3 linked regions of the Homo sapiens genome follow. The protein of the gene in region 3 interacts with the protein of the main gene of each other region in a biochemical or structural test. Each region holds a gene or a part of one and is shown on either strand. Other genes may lie near its edges. The genes, in order: PLIN3, EPS15 and SPART.

The links.
Region 1: the proteins of SPART (region 3) and PLIN3 form a complex in vitro, tested with the Homo sapiens proteins (one study listed by BioGRID).
Region 2: the proteins of SPART (region 3) and EPS15 form a complex in vitro, tested with the Homo sapiens proteins (one study listed by BioGRID).

What each region holds. Positions count from the first base shown.
Region 1 is NC_000019.10:4,835,927-4,845,180, forward strand, and holds the end of PLIN3 (perilipin-3), read right to left. Parts: intron 8,868-9,254; coding exon 8,742-8,867; intron 3,611-8,741; coding exon 3,266-3,610; 3' UTR 2,415-3,265; downstream 1-2,414. UniProt on the Homo sapiens protein: Structural component of lipid droplets, which is required for the formation and maintenance of lipid storage droplets. Required for the transport of mannose 6-phosphate receptors (MPR) from endosomes to the trans-Golgi network.
Region 2 is NC_000001.11:51,401,875-51,412,301, forward strand, and holds part of EPS15 (epidermal growth factor receptor substrate 15), read right to left. Parts: intron 7,823-10,427; coding exon 7,661-7,822; intron 6,459-7,660; coding exon 6,261-6,458; intron 4,235-6,260; coding exon 4,031-4,234; intron 1,659-4,030; coding exon 1,545-1,658; intron 652-1,544; coding exon 561-651; intron 1-560. UniProt on the Homo sapiens protein: Involved in cell growth regulation. May be involved in the regulation of mitogenic signals and control of cell proliferation. Involved in the internalization of ligand-inducible receptors of the receptor tyrosine kinase (RTK) type, in particular EGFR.
Region 3 is NC_000013.11:36,334,220-36,344,646, reverse strand, and holds part of SPART (spartin), read left to right. Parts: intron 1-8,288; exon of another isoform or gene 8,289-8,360; intron 8,361-8,814; 5' UTR 8,815-8,816; coding exon 8,817-9,626; intron 9,627-10,427. UniProt on the Homo sapiens protein: Lipophagy receptor that plays an important role in lipid droplet (LD) turnover in motor neurons.

The sequences.
Region 1 (9,254 bases), on a different chromosome or scaffold from region 3:
CCAGTTACTCAGGAGGCTGAGGCAGGAGAATGGTGTGAACCTGTGAGGTGGTGCGGCTTGCAGTGAGCTGAGATCGCGCCACTGCACTCCAGCCTGGGCTACAGAGCGAGACTCCGTCTCAAAAAAAAAAAAATTTACTGTATTCCATTGTCAATATATCTTTGACACTTTCACAAGTCAACATATGTGTCATGTATGATATTCCAAAACAGGCATTGCTACCTTAAAATGTGGTGGTTATAAGCACCGTGGAGAGAACTTGACTCTTTGAGTCCAATTTTTTTTTTTTTTTTGAGACAGAGTCTCGCTCTGTTGCCCAGGCTGGAGTGCAGTGGCGTGATCTTGGTTCACTGCAACCTTTGCATCCTGGGCTAAGTGATTCTTGTGCCTCAGACTCCCCAGTAGCTGGGATTACAGGTGTGTGCCACCACACCCAGCTAATTTTTGTATTTTTAATAGAGAGGGGGATTTCACCATGTTGGCCAGCCTGGTCTCGAACTCCTGACCTCAAGTGACCTGCCCACCTTGGCCTCCCAAAGTGCTGAGATTACAGGCGTGAGGCACCATGCCTGGCCTGAGTTCAAATTACTACTCAGCTATTAGTAGCTGAGGTGGGGCTGAGGGTGGGCTCTCTGGATTACACCTCATTTTCCCTGGAGATAATAGCATCTATCTGATGGGATTGGGAAAAAGATCGGGTGAGAGCCAGGTGCAGTGACTCTCACCTGTAATCCCAGTGCTTTGGGAGGTTGAGTGGGAGGTCGCTTGAGCCCAGGAGTTTGAGACCAGCCTAGGCAACATAGCAAGACCCACATCTGTGTGTGTGTGTGTGTGTGTGTGTGTGTGTGTGTATAATTTAGCTGAGTGTGGTGGTGCACGCCTGTAGTTCCCAGATACTCAAGAGGATGAGGTGGGGCCAGATGTGGTGGCTCACACCTGTAACCTCAGTACTTTGGGAGGCCGAGGTGGGCAGATCACTTGAGGTCAGGAGTTTGAGACCAGCCTGGCTAACATGGTGAAACCCCATCTCTACTAAAAATACAAAATTACATCCTGGCTAACACGGTGAAACCCTGTCTCTACTAAAAATACAAAAAATTAGCCGGTTGTAGTGGCAGGCACCTGTAGTCCCGGCTACTCGGGAGGCTGAGGCAGGAGAATGGCGTGAACCCAGGAGGTGGAGCTTGCGGTGAGCCGAGATCGTGCCACTGTACTCCAGCCTTAGCCGGGCGTGGTGGTGCACGCCTGTAATCCCAGCTACTCGGGAGGCTGAGGCGGGAAAACCACTCGAACCTGGGAGGTGGAGGTTGCGGTGAGCTGAGATAGTACCACTGCACCCCAGCCTGGGCAACAGAGTACAACTCTGTCTCAAAAAAGAGCGAAAAAAAAAAAAAAAAAGGCTGGCATAGTGGCTCACGCCTGTAATCCAGCACTTTGGGAGGCCGAGGCGGGCAGATCACTTGAGGTCAGGAGTTCAAAGCCAGCCTGGCCAATATGGCAAAACCCCGTCTCTAGTAAAATTCAAAAATTAGCCGGGCATGGTGGGGCACGCACCAGTAATCCCTGTGGCTGTTGGTTATAGGGAGTGGATTCCTATGTAACATTCATTGAACTGTCCCTTTAAGATTCATATACTTGGGTGCATATGAATTCAACTTGAATATGGATTAACAAAGAGAAAGTAACATGTGGTTGGTGATGGGGGAAATGAACCCTCTCAGGACTTAGGGTGGGAGTGAAAAGACTGACAATGATTTGGGCAACAGTCCAGCAGTATTTAGTAAGACTGAGAATGTATCTTCTCCATGTCCCTGGGAGAAGTCCCTGAAGTTCCCCTTCTCTGTAGCTACCGTAGAGAAACACTGTAGATTGTCACTTGGATTTTTTTCCGAGATGGTATCTTGCTCTGTTGCCCAGGCTGGAGTGCAGTAGTGCGATCTTGGCTCACTGCAGTCTCAAACTCCTGGGCTCAAGTGACCCTCCCACCTTACCATGCCTGGCTAACTTAAAAAAAAAAAATTTGTGTAGAGATGGGGTCTTGCTATGTTGCCCAGGCCAGTCTCAAACTCCTGGCCTCAAGTGATCCTCCCACCTCGGCCTCCCAAAGTGCTGGGATTACAGGCGTGAGCCACTGTGCCAGGCCTGCCAGTGTCTTGATCTTGGACTTCCCCGCCTCCGGAACTGTGAGAAATCAATTTCTGTTGCTCATAAATTACCCAGCCTGGCCAGGCACTTTGGGAGGACGTGGTGAGAGGAACGCTTGAGCTCAGGAGTTCAAGATCAGCCTGGGCAACATAGCAAGACCCCGTCTCTACAAAATAAATAAATGAATAAATAAATTACCCTGCCTAAGATATTTCTGTTCTAGCAGCAGGGACAGATGAAGACACACACACGTACACACATGGCCTGTATGCAGTTGTGGGTGAAGTTTATTAAGGCAATACTGAATACCAGAGCATTTCAACAAGGCTTACCACACAGGCCCCAGTACCTTTCTACTCTACAATGAGGCTCAGAAGCTCAGTGTACCACCCCATCCCCAGGAGGCCCACTTAGACCAGAAATCCCAAGTCCATTAGCTACAGGCTGATATTCAGGGACATCGGTGTAAACAAAGAAGTGGGATATGAACTATATCCCTGATTTTTTTTTCTTTTTTTTTTTTTTTGAGACTAAGTCTCACTCTTGTCCCCCAGGCTGGAGTGCAATGGCGCGATCTTGGCTCACTGCAACCTCCGCCTCTCAGGTTCAAGAGATTCTCTTGCCTCAGCCTCCTAACTGGGATAACAGACACCTGCTACCATGCCCGGCTCATTTTTTTTTGTATTTTTAGTAGAGACGGGGTTTCACCATGTTGGCCTGGCTGGTCTCGAACACCTGACCTCAGGTGTTCCGCCCGCCTCAGCCTCCCAAAGTGCTGGGATTACAGGTGTGAGCCACCGCACCCGGCCTATATTCCTGATATTTAACAAGGAAAAAAAATTCTGCAGGGGAGAACTTTCCTGAAAGATATTTTTTCTGGACATCTCTCTCTACTGACTGATAGGGTGAGGCTCAGAACAGGCTTCTTCCAAGCTCAGAGAGGCTGAGAGATGGGTCAACTGGGTGATGCCCGTTTTGAGAGCCTTAGCTTCCCAAGTGGACAGCACAGAAGAGCTGGGAGGAGTGGCTAGAAAATAAGTTTGAAATGAGCCCCGGGTTGAGGACTCCAGAGCACAGCTGCATTATAGAGACGGGGCCCGCTGAGTCCTCTCCTCTCCCCCTACTTCTTCTCCTCCGGGGCTTTCTCAGTGATTCCAGGGGCAAAGGGTCCCACGAGCCACGTGACAGGTGTGTTCTGGGCCACATATTCCACCATGTGGTCCAGGGCCTCGCGGGCGCTGGCGACACGCTCACGGCTCTGGGCCAGAATGCTGCTGGACAGGTCCTGGAAGGAGTGGATGCTGGAAAACGTGGCCTGGAGGTCCTCCACCTGGCGGCGGGCCTGCTGCACCTGGTCCTTCACATTGGTGGGGAGGCCCTGAATGCTGGACCCCAGGGAGGTACAGGTGGCCTGCAGTTGCTGGGCAATGTCCCGGAACATGGTGAGCGCCCGGGACTCGACCTGCTGAGAAGGGAGATGGGGACACCAATCAGGACCATTTGTTTCAGGAAAGGCGATCGGAGCTGAAGCCAGGGAAAGAGGGGAAGAGGGGTTCTACCACTGACCTTGGGGCAAACGCTTTCCATAGGCGAAACTTTTTTTTTTTTTTTTGAGACGGAGTCTCGCCCTGTCGCCCAGGCTGGAGTGCAGTGGCACAATCTCAACTCACTGCAAGCTCCGCCTCTCAGGTTCGCGCCATTCTCCTGCCTCAGCCTCCCGAGTAGCTGGGACTACAGGCGCCCACCACCACGCCAGGCTAATTTTTTGTATTTTTAGTAGAGACGGGGTTTCACCGTGTTAGCCAGGATGGTCTTGATCTCCTGACCTCGTGATCCGCCTGCCTTGGCCTCCCAAAATGCTGGGATTACAAGCGTGAGCCACCGTGCCCGGCCCTTTTTTTTTTTTTTTTTTTTGAGATAGAGTCTTGCTCTGTTGCCCAGGTTGGCGTGCAGTGGCATGATTTTGGCTCACTGCAACCTCCGCCTCCCAGGTTCAAGCGATTCTCCTACCTCAGCCTCCCGAATAGCTAGGACTACAGGCGCGTGCCACCACGCCCGTCTAACTTTTGCATTTTTAGTACAGATGGGGTTTCACCATGTTGGCCAGGCTGGTCTTGAACTCTACCTCAAGTGATCGGCCCTCCTTGGCCTCCCAAAGTACTGAGATTACAGGCATGAACCACCGCGCCCAGACTCTTTTCTTTTAATTAGAAACAGGATCTCACTTTGTCGCCCAGGCTGGAGTGCAGTGGCGTGATCATAGCTTACTACAGCCTGTAACTCCTGAGCTCAAGTTATCCTCTCATTTCAGCCTGCCTGACTACAGGCACTCACTACCACGCCCAGCTACATTTTTAAAATTTTCTGTAGAGCCAGGATCTCACTAAGTTGCCCAGGTCTTAAACTCCTGGGCCCAAGTGACCTGCCCACTTCAGCCTCCCAAAATGCTGGAATTACAGGCACGAGCCACTGCATTTGGCCACTAGTCAAATTCTTTAAAGGGCATAGACAAATCACCAAAGAAGATATAGGGAGAGCACATGAAAAGCTGTTTGACCTTATAAGTCATTGAGGAAATGCAAATCAAAACCATAAGGAGGCCTGGCATGGTGGCTCATGCCTGTAATCCCAGCACTTTGGGAGGCCAAGGTGCGTGGATCACCGAGGTCAGGAGTTCAGCCTGACCAACATGGCGAAACCCGCATTTCTACTAAAGATACAAAATTAGCCGGGTGTGGTGGCATGTGCCTATAATCCCAGCTACACAGGAAGCTGAGGCAGAAGAACTGCTTGCACCCAGGAGGCGGAGGTTGCAGTGAGCCAAGATCATGCCATTGCACTCCAGCCTGGGCAACAGAGCGAGACTCTGTCTCAAAAACAAACAAACAAACAAAAACCCCAGAGGCTATCAGATGATACCCACTGTCAGTCAAGAGGCGGAGAAATTGGAAGCCTCGTGTATTGCTGGTGGTATAGTTACTTTGGAAAACAGTCTAGCGGTTACTCAAAATGTTAAACCATAGAATCATCATATGACTCGGCAATTCTAGTTGTGGGTGTGTGCACAAGAGAAACGGAAACATACGTCCACACACAAAGACATGCACACAGGGGCACAGCAAAAAGTAGAAACGACTCAAGTGTCCTTCGGTTGATAAATGGGTGAACAGAATGTGATCCACCCATACAACAGAATGTGACTCAGCCATGGAACGTCATGGGGCTCTGACCCAGGCCACAGCATGGGTGAGCCCTAAGGACGTCACGCTCAGCGCGAGAAGCCGGACACAAAAGGCCAAACAGGGTGTGATCCCATTTCTATGAAATGTCCAGGACAGGCCCATCCAGAGACAGGAGGGGATACGTGGTTGGGAGGAGGAGGAAATGGGGCAGTGACTGCTGATGGGAAAAGGGTTTCTTTTTAGGGGCATGAGATGAGATAGGGATAGTTGCACAATGCTGAGAACCAGCGATGTGTATGCTTTAAATGCGTGACTTGTATGGTATGCAAATGAGATCTCAATAAAACTGTTAAAAAAAAAAAAAAGGCTGGGTGCGGTGGCTCACCCCTGTAATCCCCAGCACTTTGGGAGGCCGAGGAGGGTGGATCATGAGGTCAGGACGATCGGGACCATCCTGGCTAACATGGTGAAACCCCATCTCTACTAAAAAAACACAAAAAAATTAGCTGGGCATGGTGGCGGGAGCCTGTAGTCCTAGTTACTTAGGAGGCTGAGGCAGGAGAATGGCGTGAATCCGGGAGGCGGAGCTTGCAGTGAGCCGAAATCGCGTCACTGCACTCCAGCCTGGGCGACAGAGCGAGACTCCATCTCAAAAAAAAAAAAAAAAAAAAAAGAAAAAAAAAAGCTGTTAAAAAACAAAAAGTGGAAGCCAGGCTGGGACAGCCTGGAAGAACTTTCTAGGCAGAAGTTGTAAACCATCCGGGGAGAACATAGTTGAAATCAGGTCCTTGAAAATTTCCTTGGCCAGAGAGTGAGATGAGCACAGACAGGGTTCGAGACCAGCCTGGCCAACATGGTGAGACCCCATCTCTACTAAAAATACAAAAATTAGGCCGGGCGCAGTGGGTCAGGCCTGTAATCCCAGCACTTTGGGGGGCCAAGACGGGTGGATAACTTGAGGTTAGGAGTTCTAGACCAGCCTGGCAAACATGACAGAACCCTGTCTCTACTAAAAATACAAAAAAATTAGCTGGGTGTGGTTGCAGGCGCCTGTAATCCCAGCTACTTGGGAGACTGAGGCAGGAAAATTGCTTGAACCCAGGAGGTGGAGGCTGCAGTGAGTCAAGATCACGCCACTGCACTCCAGCTTGGGTGACGGAGTGAGACTCTGTCTCAAAAATAAATAAATAAATCAAATTAGCTGGGCGTGGTGGCAGGTGCCTGTAGTCTCAGCTACTCGGGAGGCTGAGGCAGGAGAATCGCTTGAACCCGGGAGGCAGAGGTTGCAGTGAGCCGAGATCATGACATTGCACTCCAGCCAGGGTGACAGAGTGAGACTCTATCTCAAAAAAAAAAAAAAAAAAAAAAAAGGCACACACTGGGAGGTAGGGTTTTGCCCAGAGCCCTGGCAGCTGGAGGACTCTGGACTTGAGCGAGGGATTACGGGAGAGTGCCCACGTGAGAGAGATAAGATCTGGTTTTTTCATTTGAAAAGTCATTCTGGCTGCTGTGCTTAGCAGTCGGGGAAACAGGAGACAGTTTTAGGCAGCAGGTGGTCTAGTTCTGCCTCCCGAACAATTTGCATTTATAGAGATATTCACCATATCTTTATGCATGTCACTTTTGTAGCCCTTACTATGTGCTTTTGATATGATCTCATTTCAGTTTTTAAAAAATCGATCTGGGTCCGGGCACGGTGGCTCACGCCTGTAATACCAGCACTTTGGGAGGCCGATGTGGGCGGATCACCTGCGGTCAGGAGTTTGAGACCAGCCTGGCCAACATGGCGAAACCCCGTGTCTACTAAAAAGTACAAAAATTAGCCGGGCGTGGTGACGCATGCCTGTAATCCCATCTACTGGGGAGGTGGAGACAGGAGAACCACTTGAACCCAGGAGGCAGAGGTTGCAGTGAGCTGAGATTGTGCCACTGCACTCCAGCCTGGGCAACAGAGCAATAAATAAATAAATAGGCAGGGTGCGGTGGCTCACGCCTGTAATCCCAGCACTTTGGGAGGCCGAGGCGGGCGGATCACAAGGTCAGCAGATCAAGACCATCCCGGGTAACACGGTGAAATCGCGTCTCTACTAAAAATACAAAAAAAATTAGCTGGGCCTGGTGGCGGGCGCCTGTAGTCCCAGATACTCGGGAGGCTGAGGCAGGAGAATGGCGTGAACCTGGGAGGCAGAGCTGGTAGTGAGCTGAGATTACACCACTGCACTCCAGCCTGGGTGACAGAGCGAGACTCCATCTCAAAAAATAAATAAATAAATAAATAAATAAATAATTGATCTGGGGTCGGGTGTGGTGGCTCATGCCTGTAATCCCAGTGCTTTGGAAGGCTGAAGTGGGAGTATTGCTTGACACCAGGAGCTCAAGACCAGCCTGGGCAACACAGTGAGATCCTGTCTCTACTAAAAATTAAAAAAAAAATTAGCCAGGCATCGTGGCACACGCCTGTGTTCCCAGCTACTTGGGAGGCTGAGGCGAGAGGATTGCCTGAGCCTGCAATGGCGAGGCCACAGTGACCTGTGATGGCATCACTGCACTCCAGCCAGGGCAACAGAGTGAGACCCTGTCTCAAAGATAAATAAACAACTATTTCAAAAATTGATATATAATCCACACACCCTAAAACTCGCCCTTTGAAGTGTACGATTCATTGGTTTTTAATACATTCACAAGGTTGGGCAAATACTACCTTCATCTAATTTCAGGACATTTTCTGTTTTTTGAGACAGAATCTCCTTCTGTTGCCCAGGCTGGAGTGCAGTGGTGCGATCTCGGCTCACTGCAAACTTCCTTTGCCCCTGGGGAGCTTAAGTGGGTGGTGGGACAGGCAGCGAGACCCATTAGAGAACACAAGAGGCCAAGGCTTGAGATAGAGTGGAGGGGGCCGGAGAATACTAGTCAGAAGTTGCTGCTAGGGGCCGGGCTCAGTAGCTCACGCTTGTAATCCCAACACTTTGGGAGGCTGGGCAGGGCGGATCACTTGAGGTCAGGAGTTCAAGACCAGCCTGGCCAACATGGTGAAACCCTGTCTCTACTAAAAATACAAAAAAATTAGCCAGGCGTGGTGGTGAGCGCCTGTAATCCCAGCTACTAGGGAGGCTGAGGCAGGAGAATCACTCGAACCCAGGAGGTGGAGGTTGCAGTGAGCCAAGATCATGCCATTGTACTCCAGCCTGGGTGACAGAGCAACACTCCATCTCAAAACAAAAAACAGAAGCCATACCTATGCATGCCCAAGAGGAGAAATCAAGGCAGGCTTCCTGAAGGAGGTGTCATTAGCTTCCAAAAGCAGGTGAGGCTAGGGAAATCATTCGAAGCAGGTAGGCCCATGAAGCAGAGGTGTAGAGAGTGGCATCGGGACTCCAAGTACCCTAGGCCACCCCCCAGTCCCCTCATGGGTACCTCTGGCTTGGGCGGCTCCTTCTCGGGGCCCTGGAGCTGCTTCTGGTTCCAGCTGAGCCACATCTGGTGCAGCTTCTCCTGGCCTTCCACCAGCTTCTGATCAACGCCTTGCTTGACAGTTTCCATCTGGGGCAGGGGAGAGAGAAGTGAGGGAAGGAGGCTCCCCTGGGAGAGACGGGATTCCAGAAGGAACCCAAGGAATCCTTCCAGCATCTGACTTACATGACAGTCTAGAAAAGAGAAAGGGAGGGAGGGAGGAAGGGTTTCCTGGCTACGGTGAGCTCTGGGGCCTTTGGTTTAATCATTGACATACTCAGGCTCTGTGTGGTTGGTGCAAAGAAGGGCTGCACATCCCCTGTAGCTCTTCCCATTGTGTCAATTTCTCCTGCGCTTGCAAGGGAGCCTGGACACGTGGCTGGCTTTGGCCAATGGGACATGAGCAGATGGAACCAGCAAAGGCTTAAAAAGTGCTTGTAGGCTGGGCATGGTGGCTCACACCTGTAATCCCAGCAC
Region 2 (10,427 bases), on a different chromosome or scaffold from region 3:
ACGCCTGTAATCCCAGCACTTTGGGAGGCCAACGTGGGCGGATCACGAGGTCAAGAGATGGAGACCATCCTGGCCAACATGGTGAAACCCCGCCTCTACTAAAAACACAAAAGTTAGCTGGGTGTGGTGGCAGGCACCTGCAATCCCAACTACTCAGGAGGCTGAGGCAGGAGATTAGCTTGAATCCGGGAGGCAGAAGTTGCAGTGAGCCGAGATTGTGCCACTGCACTCCAGCCTGGCGACAGAGCGAGACTCCATTTCTAAATAAATTAATTACATAAATAAATAAATACACACATACATACATACATACATACATAAAATTAGCTGGGTGTGGTGGTGGGCGCCTGTAGTCTCAGCTACTCAAGAGGCTGAGACAGGAGAATCGCTTGAACCCAGGAGGCGGAGGTTGCAGTGAGCCGAGATCGTGCCACTGCACTCCAGCCTGGGCGACAGACTGAGTTGGTAGGCTATTGAAACTGAAGCCTTGAATCCTTAGTTTATATATTAAAAAGTCTTTTTTTTGGGTAAATCTATAATATAAAAAAAAGAGTACTTACTGCCAACAAAAGGATCAGACTGGAAAAAATCCAAGTTTGTATCTGCAACTGGACCTGTCAGCGAACTTGAGTCTACATTAAATGGATCTTCCTAAAAATAATTTTAAATTAAAATTATTTTTTAGAAACCAAAGTTTTAAAAGGTAACATTTTAAAATAAAATAACACACATTCAGGTCATACACATGCTTTGAAAAATCAACTGATGGGCCAGGCACGGTGGCTCACACCTGTAATCCCAGCACTTTGGGAGGCTGACGTGGGCAGATCACAAGGTCAAGAGATAGAGACCATCCTGGCCAAAATGGTGAAACCCCGTCTCTACCAAAAACACAAAAATTAGCTGGGCATGTGCAGCTACTCAGGAGGCTGAGGCAGGAGAATTGCTTGAACCTGGGAGGTGGAGGTTGCAGTGAGCCAAGATCACACTACTGCACTCAAGGCTGGGTGACAGAGTGAGACTTGGTCTTGAAAACAAAAGGAAAATCAACTGATGGTAATGTAACAAATATCTCTCTAGTCATAAAGCACCTTTAACACATTTTTCTCTTTCCTTCACCTTAACATATTTTTCTCTTTCCTTCACCTAAAATAGTGTATAATTCATCTGAGGAAAACAGTGATAAGGACATTTTTTTAAAATATCATTTAATTTTTAGAGATTAGGTCCCTCTATGTTGCCTAGTGCCTCCAACTCAGGCTCAAGCAATCCACCTACTTCACCTCCTGAGTAGCTGGGACTACAGGCACTTGCCACCACATCCAGCTATTAAGAACATTTATTTATTTTATATGTATAAATTCAAGGGGCACAAGTGGAATTTTGTTACATGGCTATATTGCCTAAAGGTGAAGTCGGGGCTTTTGATGTATCTATCATCTGAATAATGTATATTGTACCCATTAAGTAATGTCTGATAATTCACCTCCTCCTGTCCTTCCACCCTTACAAGTCCCCAATGTAAATATAAAATCATTTTTTACCTCTTTTGAATGTCTATTATTGTCGAGTTCAGAACAAACTTTTTCAGTAACAGCTGTAGTCACCTCATTTTCATCAGTCACACCAGAAGGCAGTAGTTCAGGACTACTTCTTGCCTACAAAATATTAATGCAAGTAGATTAACAATATACTTTTTGACATGGCAGAGAAAACTGACTAAAGATAACCAAAAACTATTTAAAAATAAAAAAAGACAAGCAGAATGTATTCATCAAATAACTTCTCCTTCTATAATCTTTTTTAGGGAAATGGTGTCATCAAGCATCAAAGTCACTCATGTCAGAAACCTTCAGGTCATCTTTAATCCTCAGAATATGACTCCAAGTCTTGCTCAGTCTACCTCTTACCTCTTTTTCAAATCCTTGCCTTCTTCTCCATCCTCACTGTCACTATCAATCACTTATAGTACTATCATCTTTGGTTCCAATTACTATAGCAGTCTTCCTTCCAACTGCTTTCCTGCCTCCAATACATGTATTTCCAATCTCTTCTCCTTATTGTAGCCAAACTAATAGCTCTAAAATGTGGATGTGATCGTGACCCTTCTGGTTAAAAGTCCTTCAATGGCTTCCCATTGTCTTCTTCATTTAGACGAGTGGGTGAAAGACTTAAGAAGTAGTAGGGGCAGGCCGGATGCAGTGGCTCACACCTGTAATCCCAGCACTTTGGGAGGCCGAGGCAGGCAGATCACAAGGTCAGGAGATCGAGACCTTCCTGGCTAACACGGTGAAACCCCGTCTCTACTAAAAATGCAAAAAATTAGCCAGGTGTGGTGGCACACGCCTGTAGTCCCAGCTACTCGGGAGGCTGAGGCAGGAGAATAGCTTAAACCCGGGAGGCTGAGGCAGGAGAATAGCTTGAACCCAGGAGGCAGAGGTTGCAGTGAGCTGAGATTGCGCCACTGCACTCCAGCCTGGGCAACAGAGCGAGACTCCGTCTCAAAAAAAAAAAAAAAAGTAGCAGGGCAATAGCTACTTTATACCACCCTTATCTATTTGCAGGATAACCTAGTAATCTGCCTTTTGCGCTTGAAAGAATATTTTATAATGCATACATGACTGCACTGTGTAAATAAAATCGAGTCTGTTAACTTTTCACTTTTAATACCTCTCAAACTTCTATTCTTCTCATTATCCCTTCTACGGGTACAGTCTCACTCTCTAATCCGTTTTCCACATTTCTAAAAGTTAATCACGTCACTTCTTGCTTAAAATTCTTCAATGGCTGTTCATTGCAGTAGGATAAATCCCCCAATGCTTTAAGATGAATCTAAATTTCTCATCTTCTGGCACTTTCTGACCTAAAATTGGTCATTTTTATCCAGGTGCACATGACAATCACCCATAGAGTGTGTTTTTAAAATATACATATCTGGCTCTATCCCAGAAACTAGTTCAGCAAGTTTGGGGAAAGGGATACACATTTATACTTTGACAATCACCAGAGGTAATGCAGATGCCTACTAGAAGCGCCTCATCTCTTACCAATACCCTCTCCACCATCACAAGATATCCTTCAGAACTTCTCAAGATTCTGTGCTGCATGTATTCTTCCACCTTGTACCTATACTAATACTGTTTTCTCTGGCAGGAATGTATCCTCCTCTTCTTTGCTTAACCACTTCTCACTTGTCTAAACTCGCAAAGCTTTCCCCAACAAAATCTTTATGAACCCCCTCCAAACTGTCCTAACTGAAAATTCTGCGCTTCCTTTAGCACAGCCCTTTAACACAGTGTTACACTACTACACTGTAGGCTGCTTGAAGGAAAGACTGAGGTCTCTTGTCTCTGTAGCTCTTATATTATGTAATACAGCACTCTTGCACATAGTTGGTACTCGTCAAATAATTGGTAAATGAATGTCCTTAACACTACGTAATAAAAATAATTTTAGCTTTTGGTGAGGGTACTTAAAAAAAAAGTTTTACTCTATAGAACCACCATTTTAAAAACAGGCTCTACAAAAAATAAATTAGCTGGCTGGGCGTGGTGGCTCACGCCTGTAATCCCTGCACTTTGGGAGGCCGAGGCAGATGGGTCACTTGAGGTCAGGAGTTCGAAACCAGCCTGGCCAACATGATGAAACCCCATCTCTACTAAAAATACAAAAAATTAGCTGAGTGTGGTGGCACGTGACTGTAATCCCAGCTACTCAGGAGGCTGAGGCAGGAGAATTGCTTGAACCCAGGAGACGGAGGTTGCAGTAAGCCAAGATCGCACCACTGCACTCCAGCCTGGGCAACAAGAGCAAAACTCCATCTCCAAAAAAAAAAAAATTAGCTAAAGTTATCTTTTTATACTAGTTAAAACGTACAATTGTTTGGATTAGGACTCTCTGCTTCTAAAAAGGAAATCTCAATTGTCCTCAGATGAGGCAAGGCCATGTATTTATATTAGATATAATGTCAGTGAAACTTGGATCTGCACAAGGAGGTTGATTATGAAGGTTATGAAAGTATTAGACTCACTGGAGATTCCTGGTGTATGGGCTCAGACTCTAGGTTGCTCTGGCCTTCAACATGTTCATTAAGGTTGGCTGTTTCACTGCTGCTGGTGCTGAGGCTGCAATAATCTGTAGCTCCGTTTACAAGAATGCTGTGTGGGCTACTGCACCAATTTAACTGACTATTATGATTTTCCAAATCTTTCATTTCCATCAGTTTCATTTGCATCTGCCAACACAAAGAAGAAATATAGAACAGAATTTATTACTAGAAAGACATGTAACATAAAAACGCCCTCCTCCACTTCCTGACGGGCTAGGTGTGGTAGCTCATGCCTATAATCTCAACACTTTGGGAAACTGAGGCAGGAGGACTGCTTCAGCCCAGGAGTTCAAGACCAGCCTGAGCAACACGGTGAAACCTCATTTCTACAAGAAATATAAAAATTAGCTGGGCATGATGGAGTGCACCTGTAGTCCCAGCTACTCAGAAGGCTGAGATGGGAGGATCACTTGAGCCCAGAGGTCAAGGCTGCAGTGAGCCATGATCACACCACTGCACTCGAGTGACAGAATGAGACCCTGTCTCAAAAAAATAAATAAAATAAAAATGGCTATACCTGTAGACTTGGTCTAGGATACATTTGCTTCCTTTAAGAAGAATCCTCTGGGAATGCTACGTGACTTAGAGAAAAGATTCAGTAATTTCTGACAATAAGTATTTCTCTCTTGAAATTTTAGTATACATGGATTTTTTTTTTAAAGAGATTCAAAAAAAGAAAATACTTTAAAGAATACCCATTCATCTGGTAGCATTCTCACTACAACAACTCTTTCAGGTTACCTGTTTATTGAGTACCTACACTGGGACAAGAACTGTGCTAAATGATACGGATTTTTAAAAATGTGTAAGTTCCCAGACCAAAACCATGACTCTGCTAGGGGAGACAGACATATAAGCAAATATGCAGGGAAAAATCTTATTATTGCTGTAACATAAATACAAAGTCCAACAAAAGCAGGATGCAGAAAATACCATAAAGAAATAAGAATTTAAGGTATATCTTGCATGACGAATGAGTAGGTAGGTACTCAGCTGCCAGATAACAGGGGGTAAGGAAGCGCAAAAGTGAAGGACTTCATTATATGTAATAACTGAGCACACTGGACTGGGTTTTAGAAGAACTGGATTTTAGATGTAGCTCTTTTCAAGGATATGTAACCTTGAGAAAGTTACTTGAACTTCCTTGGCTTTAGTTTGTTCAAATTCATAATGAAAGAAATCAACTCCATGATCTCTGTGTTTCTATCCTTTTTTTTTTAGTTTTTATTTTTTGAGACAGATTCTCACTCTGTTGCCCAGGGTGGAGTGCAGTGGTGTGATCTGAGCTCACTGCAACCTCTGCCTCCCAGGCTCAAGTGATTCTCGTGCCTCAGCCTCCCAAGTAGCTGGAATTACAGGCAGGTACCACCATGCCCAGTTAATTTTTGTACCTTTTAGTAGAAACAGAGTTTGGCCATGTTGGCAGGGCTGGTCTCGAACTCCCGGCCTCAAGTGATCCATTGCCTCAGCCTCCCAAAGTGCTGGGATTACAGGCATGGGCCACCACCATGCCGAGCCCTAACTATCTTATCATTCATTAAAACATTAGTCTTCATGTAGGGAAACCTGGAAATAAAGCAAAGGATCTATACATAAGACCAACTATAACACTGCAAATTTATCTACAGAAGGAACAATTTCCTTAAGAAAAAAGTTTCCAAATTAGCAAATGTGAATTCAAAATTAGAATCACAAAACAGAAGAAACTAGGTTATTGTTTATAAAACAGGCAACACTTATGGAGCATTTATGTACCAAGCACCATGCTAAAATGTCTTACAGGTTTTGCCTCATTAATCCTCACAGTGGCCCTAAGGGGTAGGGTATTTATTAATCCTCCAATTTTGAAGATGAAGAATCTGATACTAAGGTGATTTAGCTAGTAAGTGGCACACCAGTACTTAAACCTAGACCATCTAGCCACAAAGCCCACACTCTTAATCACTACTCCAATGATAATCATCAGATAGATATACAAGATGTATGATAGTTTCAATATATAACAGGTGACAAAAAAACCTATTGTATAAAATGACTGAAAAATGAACAGTAAACTAGGCAAGAGGTTGAAGGAGCAGAAGTTGGAAAGTATAACTGACTAAAGGACACAGAGGATCCATTTGAATATATTTCTTGCTTTACAAAGACTTACTGAACTAATTTCCTGTTGTGAATCTTGTAGGTGCTGCTGAAGAGGTTCCAACTGAGCCTTCCCTGACTCTACACTCTCCTCCAATTCTGCTGTTTCTTGCTGTAGACGGCTCAGCTCTTCTCTAGCTTTTGCCAATTCTTCTTCGTAAGTGGAGATCTGCGATTCCTGACTAGTTAATTCAGCTTTCAGAGAAGAGATCTATAATGTGAAAGTGAATGAGAAGAAATGGGGATTAAAAGAAGAGATGTCATTAAAATGTTCCAAAATGCAATACATTTATTTGTTTAGTTTACTATTTTGGTGTTTTTTTTGACAGCAATAGCAAATAATTTATTTAATTTAATTTTTGAGAGAGAGAGTCTTGCTATGTTGCCCAGGCTGGATTCAAACTCCTGGGCTCAAGTGATCCTCCTGAGTAGCTGGGACTATAGGAACATGCCCAGCCATACCTAGCCCTATTATGGAGTTTTTGATGTTGTTGTTGTTGTTGATGTTTTATTTTTTTGAGACAGTCTCACTCTGTCACCCAGGCTGGAGTGCAATGGCACGATCACAGCTCACTTCAGACTTCAGGCTCAACTTTCCCAGGCTCAGGTGATCCTCTCACCTCAGCCTCTCGAGTAGGTGGGATTACAGATGTGGGCCACCACGCCTGGCTTTCAATTTTTTTTTTTTTTTTTTTTGAGACAGAGTCTCGCTCTGTTGCCCAGGCTGGAGTGCAGTGGCGTGATCTCAGCTCACTGCAAGCTCCGCCTCCTGGGTTCACACCATTCTCCTGGCTCAGCCTGCCGAGTAGCTGGGACTACAGGCACCCGCCACCGCCCTGGCTAATTTTTTGTATTTTTAGTAGAGACGGGGTTTCACCGTGGTCTCGATCTCCTGACTTCGTGATCCGCCTGCCTCGGCCTCCCAAAGTGCTGGGATTAAAGGCGTGAGCCACTGCACCCAACCAGCTTTCATATTTTTTGTAGAGATGGGATTTCTCCATGTTTCCCAGGCTGGTCTCCAACTCCTGGGCTCCAGCAATTCCCCCCGCCTCAGACTCCCAAAGTGTTGGGATTACAGGTGTGAGCCACTGTGCCCAGCCAATTATGATGTTTTTTGATGTATGGTTTTCGTAAAGAAGGGTAACTGGGGGAGGGACAGAGGAGAGTTGAAGGTATAGGCACCATATTTCCAACAAAAATTTGGAAAAACAGTTCATTAACTGCCCTTCTATTTCCTCTAAAGAAGGCCTGTAATTTCTGGATGAACCTTGCTCCATCGCCCCCATGAACCCAAATGCTGACTGGATTGCCAACCACCACCATCAATAACAAAAAGTAGAGAATGTTTTCATCTTAAGCCAGGAAAAGCAACTAATGTATAGGTGCAGGCAGCAGGAAACAGCCAGACATTACCAGTTGGGCCTCCTCAGCACATTTCTTTCTGACTTCCTTGAGTTGCTCCTCCAGCTGGGCTTTCTGCTCATCCAGTTCATCAAGGAGTTCCTGTACCTGCTGTTTCTGGGCCTGTAGTTTTTGCAGATTAGTATTCTCCCTTTGAACTTCATCTTGAAGATCCTAAAATCCAAGAAAATTAATATATTTATTTTCTTTGCGGGCAGGGGAGGGTTAAGTTAGTAATTTTAAATCTACCTTAAGAAAGAATAAAGTCTTACTGAGTATACTGTGTTGATGAGACTAGGGTACTTAACAGCTTTAAATACAATCTTTACTTGAAGACATCTTTCCTAGAATCCATATTTAGATATTCAATTTGCTAACTCAAATCTGTCCTTGGACATGTGATGGGCTTTGCTAACATGTTGAAAATAGAACTCCTGGAATTTCCCCACAAATCTGTTTTAAGCTCAATCTTTCCCCTCTCAGATTCTCTGGTCAAAAAAAAACCCCACATGGAGAAACCCTGTCTCTAACAAAAATGCAAAAAAAAAAAAAAAAATTTAGCTGGGCGTGGTGGCGCATGCCTGTAATCCCAGCTACTCGGGAGGCTAAAGCAGGAGAATTGCTTGAACCCAGGAGGTGGAGGTTGCAGCGAGCCGAGATCATGCATTGCACTCCAGCCTGGGCAACAAGAGTGAAACTCCATCTCAAAAAAAAAAAAATTAGCTGGACGTGGTAGTACGTGCCTGTGGTCCCAGTTACTTGGGAGGCTGAGATGGGAGGATCTCTTGAGCCCAGGAGGTCAAGGCTGCAGTGAGCTGTGATCATGCCACAGCATGCCCAGACTGGGCAACAGAGTGAGACACTGTCTCCAAAAAAAAAAAAAAGAAAAATTAATTCCAGGTAAATAATGGACCTGAATGTAAAAGTCTAACTTTAAAATGTGTAGAAGAAATGCAGATCTCAGTGTAGGAAAAGATTTCTTAAAACAAAAAAAGAACCATTTTGAAAATGTTATTTATTCATCCATGTACATACCAGACCTCATGCTTAATAACAAGAACTACAGAAATTTTTAAAAAGCCAGGCGCAGTGGCTCAGGGATTAATAACTCCGAAGTATCTGTCAGCAGGAGGTAGGCAAAGATTTCAAAGCGGGTGAGGTAAAACTGAACACAAATTTCTAAAAATAATATCTATTCAAAGGTCCCAACAGTCATTCACCAGAATAAGAATCTAAGAACAGAAGAGAAACTTACAGGTAAAAGGTCTCTGAATTACTGCATAGGTTACACAAGATAGCACCATTATGATAATAGCCAACACTTTAAATGCTACTTAAAATGTGCTAGGTTGTGCTCTAGGCTCTTTAAATATACTAACTTATTTATAGTCTATATGACAGATCTACGAGTTAGGTACTGATATCATTTCATATTTTACAGATGAGAAAACTGAAGTACTGATGTGTAGGTAATGTGTCCAAAGTTAAAAATAGTAAGCTATGGATTCAAAGTGGGTTCTGACTCCACAGCCTGAGCTCTTAACCACCATGTGACATACCATCTGCAGACTAAATGTCTCACATGTGTCACTATTTTTCAAATATATGCAGATGTTTCTGTGATTAAATAGAACACTGAACAATGCTTTCAATAATTGCTTTTTATCTTATATTTTCTTAACCAACTGGTTAGTCTAAAAATATCATGTTGCTTTCTTTAAAAAATTCCTTTAAAGCCCAGGCAGAGCAGGCAGACAAAAAGGGAAACTCAAAGGCAGTAGCCTTTGAATTCCTCAATGATACTTGAGGAATTCGGACAATGTTTGATGAGTATCATCAACTCTGCAAAGAAAGGCAAAAAGTGACCCTTGTGCCATGAATTGCTAACTCTTGCACAAAGGACTGATAAATGGAACTGTACAGAGAATTTAAGATACAGGGACACTTGATTTCTGGAAGAAAAACAATTTCTGTATTTTAATTCAGTCCTTATTTTAAGAGACTTGAAATTATAATATTGAAGGAGAAGAAATTTTAAATGAGGAAATAAGTACATTTTAAATCTTAGTTAAATATGCTTATGCCCCTTCTAAATTGAATTTTTCTTTATTGTATTATATAGAGTTTTGCTTTGCCTAGGTTTCTTAAGAATCAGATGTTCTCTCATTAACCCGTCAGGAAACAACAGAAGCTGGAGAGGATGTGGAGAAACAGGAACGCTTTTACACTGTTAGTGGGAGTGTAAATTAGTTCAACCATTGTGGAAGACAGTCTGGCGATTCCTCAAGGATCTAGAACCAGAAATACCATTTGACCCAGCAATCCCATTACTGGGTATATACCCAAAGGATTATAAATCATTCCACTATAAAGACACATGCACACGTATGTTTATTGCAGCACTATTCACAATAGCAAAGACTTGGAACCAATGCAAATGCCCACCAACGATAGACTAGATAAAGAAAATGTGGCACATACATCCCATGGAATACTATGCAGCCATAAAAAAGAATGAGCTCATGTCCTTTGCAGGGACATGGATGAAGCTGGAAACCATCATTCTCAGCAAACTACCACAGGAACAGAAAACCAAACACCACATGTTCTCACTCATAAGTGGGAGCTGAACAATGAGAACGCATGGACACAAGGGAGGGGAACATCACACACCGGGGCCTGTCGGGAGGTGGGGGACAAGGGGAGGCAGAGCATTAGGACAAATACCTAATACATGCAGAGCTTAAAACCTAGATGATGGGTTGATGGGTGCAGCCAA
Region 3 (10,427 bases):
AAAATGTATTTTCTGAGACCGCTGAGGATATAGCAAATCCCAGTCACAAAATAAAAATGTGATATTTTAATATAAACCTTTTTCTTTCTGTGTTGAGATTCCCCAGAGATTAGACTGAAATTGACCATTAGACTTATATATAACCTCTAGATACCCAGGCTCTTCTCTCGTGTATCCTTTTTTTCTCTTTAAGATGGAGATGTAGCAAGGAAGGTTATTAAGCAATCCTGTGGAATTAGCCCTCCCACTCCACCCCTACACACAGGCACACTCTTCTTTCTCAGTAGCCATCTTGTTCCCTCCATTGACACATTATTAGGAAATCTTTCATCACACCGTATGTAAAATAAGCTTAGAAATAAACGTATACCCAAGGTAAATATTGCTTCTAGCTATATTCCTTCATTATGCCTCGCTTCTACTTTCAAATGCTACCTATTGAAGATTTAAGCCACATGACTTTCTACGACGGGACACTCTGGGTTTTCTTCACCCCTCCCTCACTCTGCTGACTTGTAAACATAGTAGGACTTTTAGATTTGGAATCAAACACATCTCATCTAATTTTCATTTTCATTTTTCTTTTCTTTCTTTCTTTTTTTTTTTTTTTTAAAGAGACAAGGTCTTGCTCTGTCACCCAGGCTGGTTGGAGTGCAGTGGTGCAGTCATAGCTCACTGCAACCTTGAACTTCTGGGCCCAAGCGATCCTCCGGCCTCAGCCTGTGCAGTAGCTGGGATTACAGGCGAGAGCTCATTTAATTTTCTTGACAGATAATCTTCTGATCCATGAACTGATTTGAATGTATCATTTACTAGCTCTCTTCTTGGGCAAGCTGCTCAATATTTGTAAAACATTTTTAAAATCAGATATCAACCTCCAAGAGTGAGGATTGGATAACCTTAGAAGGGTGCCAGACACATATAGAGAGCTTAACAAAAGATAGTAAATTTTGGTGCTTCTGAGGGCCAGAGACAGACCATGTCCATTATATCTTTGCTATATATTATAGTTGTGAGTGATTTTTAAAGCAGTACTTTTAATTTGCTTGTGAACCCCCAAATAATTTTTGTAAAACTGTCCCTCTTGCACACTTTTGGTTAACTTACAGCATTTTACATCATGCGTTAGTTGAAAAGAATGCAGTTTCCCACATGGTATTGATATTAACATTTTAATATTGGTACATCATTCTTTCACCTGTATTCAGTGGGGTATCATATCTTTGTAGTTTTATATCCATCACCATCAATTTTTAAAATACATTATATTTTACACACTTCCTTTTTTAAAAAATTTTACTTTTTTATCACCCCCACCCCACAGAATATTATCTTAAGGTAATGCATTTTTATGCTTGAAAGCTTTTTATTAATCTCTGTGATACATGGCTTTAATAACAATAGTTATATAAATTGAAGCTAAGTTTAAAAATTTCCTATAACTAATTCTGTAAGTTGTAATTTTTCTTTTGGGTTGAGTTATTATAAATAGTTGATTAGAATAGCTTAAAAACTTGATGGATTTTAATGAATAATAATTATTAAGAGTAGAAGTTTACTGGAAATCTGTGTCCTAATGGAATGGATAGTGGGAGTTGTGCCTAAATTAAAGGAGGGTCTTTGAGCCCTTCGACTTATTGTTTGTTGGTAGGGAGGCTTTTCCATCCTGGGGCAGTGTACCATAGTAAGAATAGGAGTGGGTGAGAAGTATGCCTTTATTTTGTAAAGTGGAAGATTGTGAAAGGATCTTGGGGAATAAAAATCAGCATGATAACTGGACAATGGGCATATTCTCAGGCAGATCAGTTTAGTGAGAAGTACTCATGGGAGTAAAGGATCTGGAAGCCTTTTTCTTAAAATTACACATGTCGTTGGTGTATGTCCCATGGAAGACTTCATTTGTCCTGGGGGGCACACATCCCCCAGTTTGAAGACCATTTAGAGTGGTAATTCTCAGTGGGGGACGATTTTGCTGCCCAAAGTACATTTGGCAATGTCTGGAGACGTTTTTGGTTGTCACAACCGGGATGAGGGGTGGTGCTGCTATGGGCATCCAGTGGACAGAGATCAGGGATGCTGCTAACAAAGCATTATCCAACCCAAAATGTCAACCATGCCAAGACTGAGAAACCCTGATTTAGAGGATTTGTTTTGGAATCAGACTATTTAATTCTGTAAACTAGTGCAGGGTCAGTAAACTTTTTTTGTTAAGTGCCAGATAGTAAATATTTTAGGCTTTTGGGGCCATGTATGATCTCTGTTGCACATTCTTCTTTGTTTTTATAACCTTTAAAAAATGTAAAAGTAATTCTTAATTCCAGGGTCTTTCAGAAAACAGGTGATCTAAGGCAATTAATGCTTGCAAACTTCAATTTTCTTCTCTGCAAAGTAGTACTAATAGTAATATTGCATCAAGAATTGTTTGTAAGGATTGAGATAAACACCTAGCATACTGTCCAGCATATGTTAAGTACTCTAAATGATGCGTGGGGATAGTGGTGTCCTATCGTATGTAGCACAAAAGTGGGTGCCAAGTCACAGTGTTGTTCAAGACCCTGTTCAAGTCATTTGGACAAATTTAATGATGCTGGTGAAGCTCCCAATCAACTCACAGATGCCTATTTAACCTCTGCTGTCTTTCTGCTGCCTTAGTCTGGGCCTCCTTGTATCCTGAGGAAGATAAAATACAAAATGCCTGTCTTGTGGTTTCTTTGGAAAGATGTGGCAATCTTATGACACAACAGGATAGTATTCCAGGAGAAGAGATTGTTAATATTGATAGGGGTTGTGGGGTAGAGCAAATACGTGGGTCTGTATATGGTCAATTGTATATGGTATTTTCTAAATTGGGTACTGAATATATTCTGTTGACTACCATGAAGTTGTTGCATAATAAGGCTGACTAGTGGCACTTCAGGTTAGAAAGTATAGTTATATTATTAATCGGAAGCTAGACCAATTTTAATGAATGCTTTCTGTGATGCTTCTGTGCTTTCATAGTGTAGATTGCTGCTAAAATAGTTTCATATCAGTGAAATTCTTCTATCGTAAGTTTTCATGAGATCACAGGAAAAGAATTGCCACATCTAATGACAGTAGCCACTAGGTACATGTGGATATTGAGCACTTGCAATGGGGTTAGTTGGAATTGAACTATCTTTTCAGTGTAAAACACATACTGAGTTTTGAAGACTTCATACCAAAAAAAAGAAAGCTAAAATATTTAACTGAAAGTTTTTATATTAACTGCATATTGAAATAATATTTTTGATATATTTGGATAAATAAGATACTATCATTGAAATTAACTTCACCTGTTTTTTACCTTTTTAATGTTATTAGAAAAGTATAAATTACATATGTGGCTTGCATTACAGTTCTGTTTGACATAGTTGCTCTAAAGCTTCCATTTACTTTTTTAATAGTAATTAAATTTTCTATCATACACATAGATTTAAGAAAAATCTTACCCCTTCCTCCCAAAGTCAGCTTGTATCATTTTTCTTACCCAATTCTTTTGGTCTTTTTTGTACTCTAAACAGTGCGAATATATTGGCACTTTTTCAGTTTTAGGCACTGTCCATTAACTTCTCAGTGAGAAAGATGAAGTTTTATCTCTTTCATCCTTTGTCGCATGCACATAAACTTTTTATCCATCCATCTTCCCATCTTTCAATATGGTTGTACCATAATTTTGTTTATATTGAGATTCATTGTGTATATTATGACACCAATCAAAACTGAAACATTTAGTACATTATGATTACTTTTTATTTCTTGCTCAACATCATTTTCCCTAGAGTTAATCCTTAGTTTTTAATTATTACTAATGGAACCCTGAATACTCTCACAGTTGTGTAGATCTTTTTTCAGAGCTTACAATCACATTAGGTATTCTATCAGTTTTACTTTCTTAAAAAATTCTTTTCTGTTGTCTCCTACTCCACCCTGGAGTGTTTGCCTAATTGTTATCTTGGAAACTCATCATCAGTCTTGGGATTCCTTTCATCAAACATGGTACCCAGCAAACAGAAGATGTAATAACTGAGCAATCACTTGGCTGGGTTTAGAAGCTATTTTTACTCAGAATTATGAATTAAATGTATAATTTCCTTCTTCTATTGTTGCCTTTAAGAAGTTCCTTAGCACTCTTACTTCTCTCTCTTTTTTTGTGTGTAAGTATTTTAAAGATGATCCTTTTGAGCTTAGTGTTCTAAAATGTCATGGTATGTTTCTTGGTGTGAAATCTTTTTTTCTTATTTATTTATTTATTTTTATTTTTTTGAAACAGAGTCTTGCTCTGTCGCCCAGGCTGGAGTGCAGTGGTGTGATCTCGGCTCACTGCAAGGTCCGCCTCCCGGGTTCAAGCAATTCTCCTGTCTCAGCCTCCTGAGTAGCTGGGACTACAGGCGCCTGCCACCACGCCTGGCTAATATTTTTGTATTTTTAGTAGAGACAGGGTTTCACCTTGTTAGCCAGGGTGGTCTCGATCTCCTGACCTTGTGATCTGCCCACCTCAGCCTCCCCTTTTTTTCTTATTTTTTGCCCATTGGTTTTTTTATTTACTTTTATTTGTTAGAGATGGGGTCTTGCTCTTTCAACCCAGGCTGGAGTACAGTGGTGTGATCATAGCTCACTGCAGCCTTGAATTCCTGCACTCAAGTGATTCTCCTGCCTCACTTCCTGAGTAGCTGGAACTACAGGCACGCGCCAGCATGTCTGGCTAATTTTTTGATGTTTTCTTTGTAGAGCTGGTCTCACTATGTTGCCCAGGCTGATCTCAAACTCCTGGACTCAAGCGATCCTCCTGTCTCAGTCTCCTAAAGTGCTGGGATTACAGGTGTCAGCCACTGTGCCCAACCTGTTGGTCTTTTTAAATTAGGAAATTCATGTTTTCCAATTCTAGGAAATTCTATGAATTATTTCTTTAATTCTTTCATCCCTTATTTTTTCTCTGTTCTCTATTTCTAGGAGGTTTTTTGTTTGTTGGTTGGTTTTTTTTTTTTTTTTTTTTTTTTTGATGGAGTCGTGCTCTGTGAACAGGCTGGAGTGCAGTGGCATGATCTCGGCTCAGTGCAACCTCTGCCTTCCGGGTTCAAGCAATTCTCCTGTCTCAGCTTCCTGAGTAGCTGGGGTACAGGTGCATGCCATGATGCCCTGGAAATTTTTTTGTATTTTTAGACGGGGTTTCACCATATTGGTCAGGCTGGTCTCGAGCTCCTGACCTCAGGTGATCTGCCCGCCTCAGCCTCACATATTTCTAGAAGTTTTATTATTCAAATGATATGCCTTATAGACTGGGTCCTAATTTTCTTATTTATTATTGCCTATTTTTCATCTCTGTCTTTTTGCTCTGCTTTCTGGGCATTTTCTATAATTGTATGACCTCATCCTTCTTGAGTTTTTCCTTCCTGCGTTTTAAATATTTAATTTCCCGGAGTTCCTTTTGTCACTCGAATATCCTTCTTTCAGTATGCACGCATCCCACTTTTTATTTTATGGATGCGATATTTTCTTTTTCTTTATGTTGATATAAATGATAGGGTTTTTTTTTTTACGTTTCCTGCACATTGTCCATTTCAACCAAATTACATTGCTCTTCTTTTAATCCTTTATACTGGATGTTTGCCTCATGTTTTGTGATCCTGGGCTGTGTGTGTGTCTGTGTGTGAGTGTGTGCGTGTGAGTGAAGCACTAGAAAGCTGATCTGAGATTCTATGGGTGGAACCTATCAACTATGGCTTCTGAACGGTGAATTGCTTGGACAGTTTTCCTTAGGGAACTCTCACTGTCACTATTCTTTGTGTCTTTCTTCTTGGTGATGATCAGATTCCTCAAGAAGATAACTTCCAATCTCCTTTCTTGAGGGGTACCTGGCAGCCAAAACTCTAATTACCAAGTTGTGGGGAAGAAGGCTGTGGGTCTCAATAATCAATGTGTAACATTTCACTTAATCCCCCTGCTTTTGGTTTTTACCCTTAATCATGCCTGATAGTTTCTTATCCTCACTTTATTTTACACTCTTCTAGATCAAAGCACTCAGTCTTTCAGGGCTGTAGAGAAACAGCGTCCTGATTGCTTGGTGTAGGAAAGATCTGAGGGTGCTAATTTGTAAATAGGCTTTCAACCAGTCCTCTTTTTTCAGCTCTTTGTCTACTTCCTTTCCATAGGAAGATTGAATTCCATCAATTCTTATGCCTTTGGAGGTTCTTGATGTGACGTAAGTGCAGCTGCGTCTCTGATTTTCCCACTGACAGTTTAAAGCATCTGTTTTCTCAAGTGTGTTTTGGGAGTTTTCACTTGTCTGCCTCCTTTTTTGACACCAAGTACTGTTGACTTTTCATCTTCCCTATTTGTCCTTGTGAGTTATGGCTTTATTATTTATCTGTTTTATTGAGGAATCACATAAAATGCATATAGTACCCTGATCTTAAATGTATAGTTTAATGATTTTTATGTATATATACAGTAGTCCCCCCTAACCCCTTATCCAAGGGAGATAAGTTGCAAGACCCCTAGTGGATGCCTGAAACCATGGATAGTGTGGCACCCAATTGCTTTCAATTGGAACATGTTTCTGTTCATATCTCAGCCTTTTCCATCTTAACTAAACACTTGTCACATGCTTTGACCATAAGTTTTGCAGTTTGAGGGACAACAGCAAAACTGGCACTAATTTCTTTTTCCTTCTTCACAATTTCAGGAATAGAAAATATGTTATTAATGGTAGATCTTAGCAACCTCAGCATATGATTTTTTTTCTTGTTAAGTTGAAAACTTTAACCTTTTCACTTGAAGGAAGCACTTCACAGCTTTTCAGTGTATCAAAATTGCCAGCATCACTACTGTTGCACTTTGGGGCCATTATTAAGTAAAAAGAATTAGTTGAATCCAACCACCACAATATCGGAACAGTTGATCTGATAACCAAGATGGCTACTGTATTAGTCCGTTTTCACACTGCTGTAAAGAACTGCCCAAGACTGGGTACTTTATAAAGAAAAGAGGTTTAATTGACTCAGTTCTGCGTGGCTGGGGAGGCCTCAGGAAACTTACAGTCATGGCGGAAGATGAAGGGGAAGCAAAGACCTTCTTCACATGATGGCAGGAAAGAGAGAGCTAGCAAAAGCTGGAAAAACTGCCTTATAAAACCATCAGATGTTGTGAGAACTCACTATCAGGAGAACAGCATGGGGCAAACTGCCCCCATGATCCAGTCATCTCCCACGGGGTCCCTCTCTTGACACCTGGGGATTATGGGTATTACAGTTCAAGGTGAGATCTGGGTGGGGACATCGCCAAACCATATCAGCTACTAAGTGATCATGGGAGGGGAGCATAGACAGCATGGATGCCCTGGACAAAAGGATGATTCATGCCCCAGGGGGCACAGAGAGAGACAAGAGGAGATTTAATCATGATACTGAGAATGTGCAATTTAAAATTTATGAATTATTTATCTCTGTAATTTTCCATTTAATATTAATATTTTCAGATCATAGTTGACTGCAGGTAACTGAAACCACAGAAAATGAAACTATACATAAGTGGGGACCACTGTACACCCTTGTAGTCATCACTCAGATCAACAAGAGAACATTTCCAAAGGCCATGAGATTCCCTCCTGTACCTGTGAAGTCTGTAGCCTCTACCTATAAGCACTATTTTGATTTATGTCATATCATAGACCAGTTTTTCCCATTTAATTCATTCATGTAGAATCATAGTATGTGGTCTCAATATGAAGTCTTTTGTATTTGGCTTTTCCTCAAAGAATTGGTGAGATTCATTGATGTTGCAGGCAATCAGGTTTAAAATTTTTTTTCTGTGTATTATTGCATTGTATGAATGAGTGAGCATTTGGGTTGTTTTAAGGATTTGCTTTTTGTGAATATAGTTGCTGTGAATATTGCCATACATGTTTTTGGCATGCACATGCATCCATTTCTCTTGGTTATATACCTGCAAGTGGAATTGTTGGGTCATTGAGTGGGTGTTTAGCTTTAGTAGAAACTGCCGGTTTTCCAAAATGTTGTATCATTTTTCAGCTTTCACCAGCAAGGTAGAAGAGTTCCACTTGTCTTCACTTAGCACTAATCAGTCTTTTAAATTTTAGCCATCTGTTAAGTGCCTAGTTGGTATCACTCGATTTTAGTTTCACTTTTCTGAGGGAATAGTATGTTGAACACCTTTTCAGATGCTTTTTAAAGATTTTCTTCTGTGAAGTGCCTATTCATGTATTTTTCTCACTAAGAAAAATGGTTGTTCCTTTTTCATAATCTTTCCAGAGTCATCTTAGTGGGATTTGGGGAAGCAACAGGGCTGTGTGGGGTAACCTGCCACCTTTAAGTGGAAATCAGGTAACAAAGTTTCATTCACTTTTTTTTTCTCATTTCTGTTTTCCCCAGTCTATGATTCAATTCATTTTTTATTGGCTGGATATAATCTGGATTTATATTATAATGAATTTTAGAATGAGACTCTTGTTTCAACCATAAGGATGTATGATAGGAAACTATTATAAGAAACCAGAACAAGAAAATTATTTAATAGATGTATTCTGATTTATTCTCTTATGTTTTTAAATTAAGATATTTTGGACCAAGAGTTTTCATTTATTTATCCATTCATCAAATACATGTTAAGTGCTTTCTTTATGACAGACCTAATAGTAGGCTTAAAGGATAGTATAATAGTGAACAAAACAGAGATAAGCGAGGCACTTGTCCTCTTAAAATATATTCAGGTAGGAGATACGAATCATAAGTAAACAATAGCTAAGCAAGATAATTAAATATGTCTCCAATTTTGCAGAAATGGAGCAAGAGCCACAAAATGGAGAACCTGCTGAAATTAAGATCATCAGAGAAGCATATAAGAAGGCCTTTTTATTTGTTAACAAAGGTCTGAATACAGATGAATTAGGTCAGAAGGAAGAAGCAAAGAACTACTATAAGCAAGGAATAGGACACCTGCTCAGAGGGATCAGCATTTCATCAAAAGAGTCTGAACACACAGGTCCTGGGTGGGAATCTGCTAGACAGATGCAACAGAAAATGAAAGAAACTCTACAGAATGTACGCACCAGGCTGGAAATTCTAGAGAAGGGTCTTGCCACTTCTCTGCAGAATGATCTTCAGGAGGTGCCCAAGTTATATCCAGAATTTCCACCTAAAGACATGTGTGAAAAATTACCAGAGCCTCAGTCTTTTAGTTCAGCTCCTCAGCATGCTGAAGTAAATGGAAACACCTCAACTCCAAGTGCAGGGGCAGTTGCTGCACCTGCTTCTCTGTCTTTACCATCACAAAGTTGTCCAGCAGAAGCTCCTCCTGCTTATACTCCTCAAGCTGCTGAAGGTCACTACACTGTATCCTATGGAACAGATTCTGGGGAGTTTTCATCAGTTGGAGAGGAGTTTTATAGGAATCATTCTCAGCCACCGCCTCTTGAGACCTTAGGGCTGGATGCAGATGAATTGATTTTGATACCAAATGGAGTACAGATTTTTTTTGTAAATCCTGCAGGGGAGGTTAGTGCACCTTCGTATCCTGGGTACCTTCGAATTGTGAGGTTTTTGGATAATTCTCTCGATACGGTTCTAAACCGTCCTCCCGGGTTTCTTCAGGTAAGCGAAAGAAAAATGAAAGCATAATTTGAAATACGTGTAGACTACATCATTTTTATTTGTTAATGTTTATGTGTCCAGTATAAGTGCAAAAAGATAACGACAAATTCTACTTTGTTTTTAAATATATTCCATGAAATTATGAGCCTTGAACATGTTTGTGTTTGTCTTTTTCTTTTTTTAAAAAAGATATATTAATAGTTTTATTTTGGTATTAAGTTTGTGATGATAAAACTTGAGAAGAGTGGTCATCCTTACATTTTTAATTCTTTATCTGAAGAAGAAATCTAATAAGTTTAATTTCGAAAGGGATTTATGTAATTCCTGTGGATGTATAGCTGTAAATATTCACAAATGTTGTCAAGACTCAGCTGAGGGTCTGAACTGGGAGAGACCGAGCCCATGGTCCAGAACAGTTGTTCTCAACCCAGGGTAGTTTTGCCTCCCCAGAGAACATTTGACAATGTCTGGAGGCATTTTTGGTTGTCATACTGGAAGTTGATTGCTACTGGCATAGTGGATAGAGGCCACGGATGCTGCCACACATTTTCACAGGACAGCCCTCATGAACAAAAAAAAATTATCCTGCCCAAAATCTCAACTATGCCAAGGTTGAGAGACCTTGGTTTAGAAGTCGAGACTGTGGTGATAATTTAAGATGTAATTCCAACAGTCCAAGCAGAGAAATTTACCAGAATGCACTTGGTCTAAGAGTAAAGAGTGCTACATAAAGATTGATGTCAGGGCATTGCTGTGGATTTAGTGAGGTACTCTGAAGAGAGTGGTCCAGTGACAGTCTCG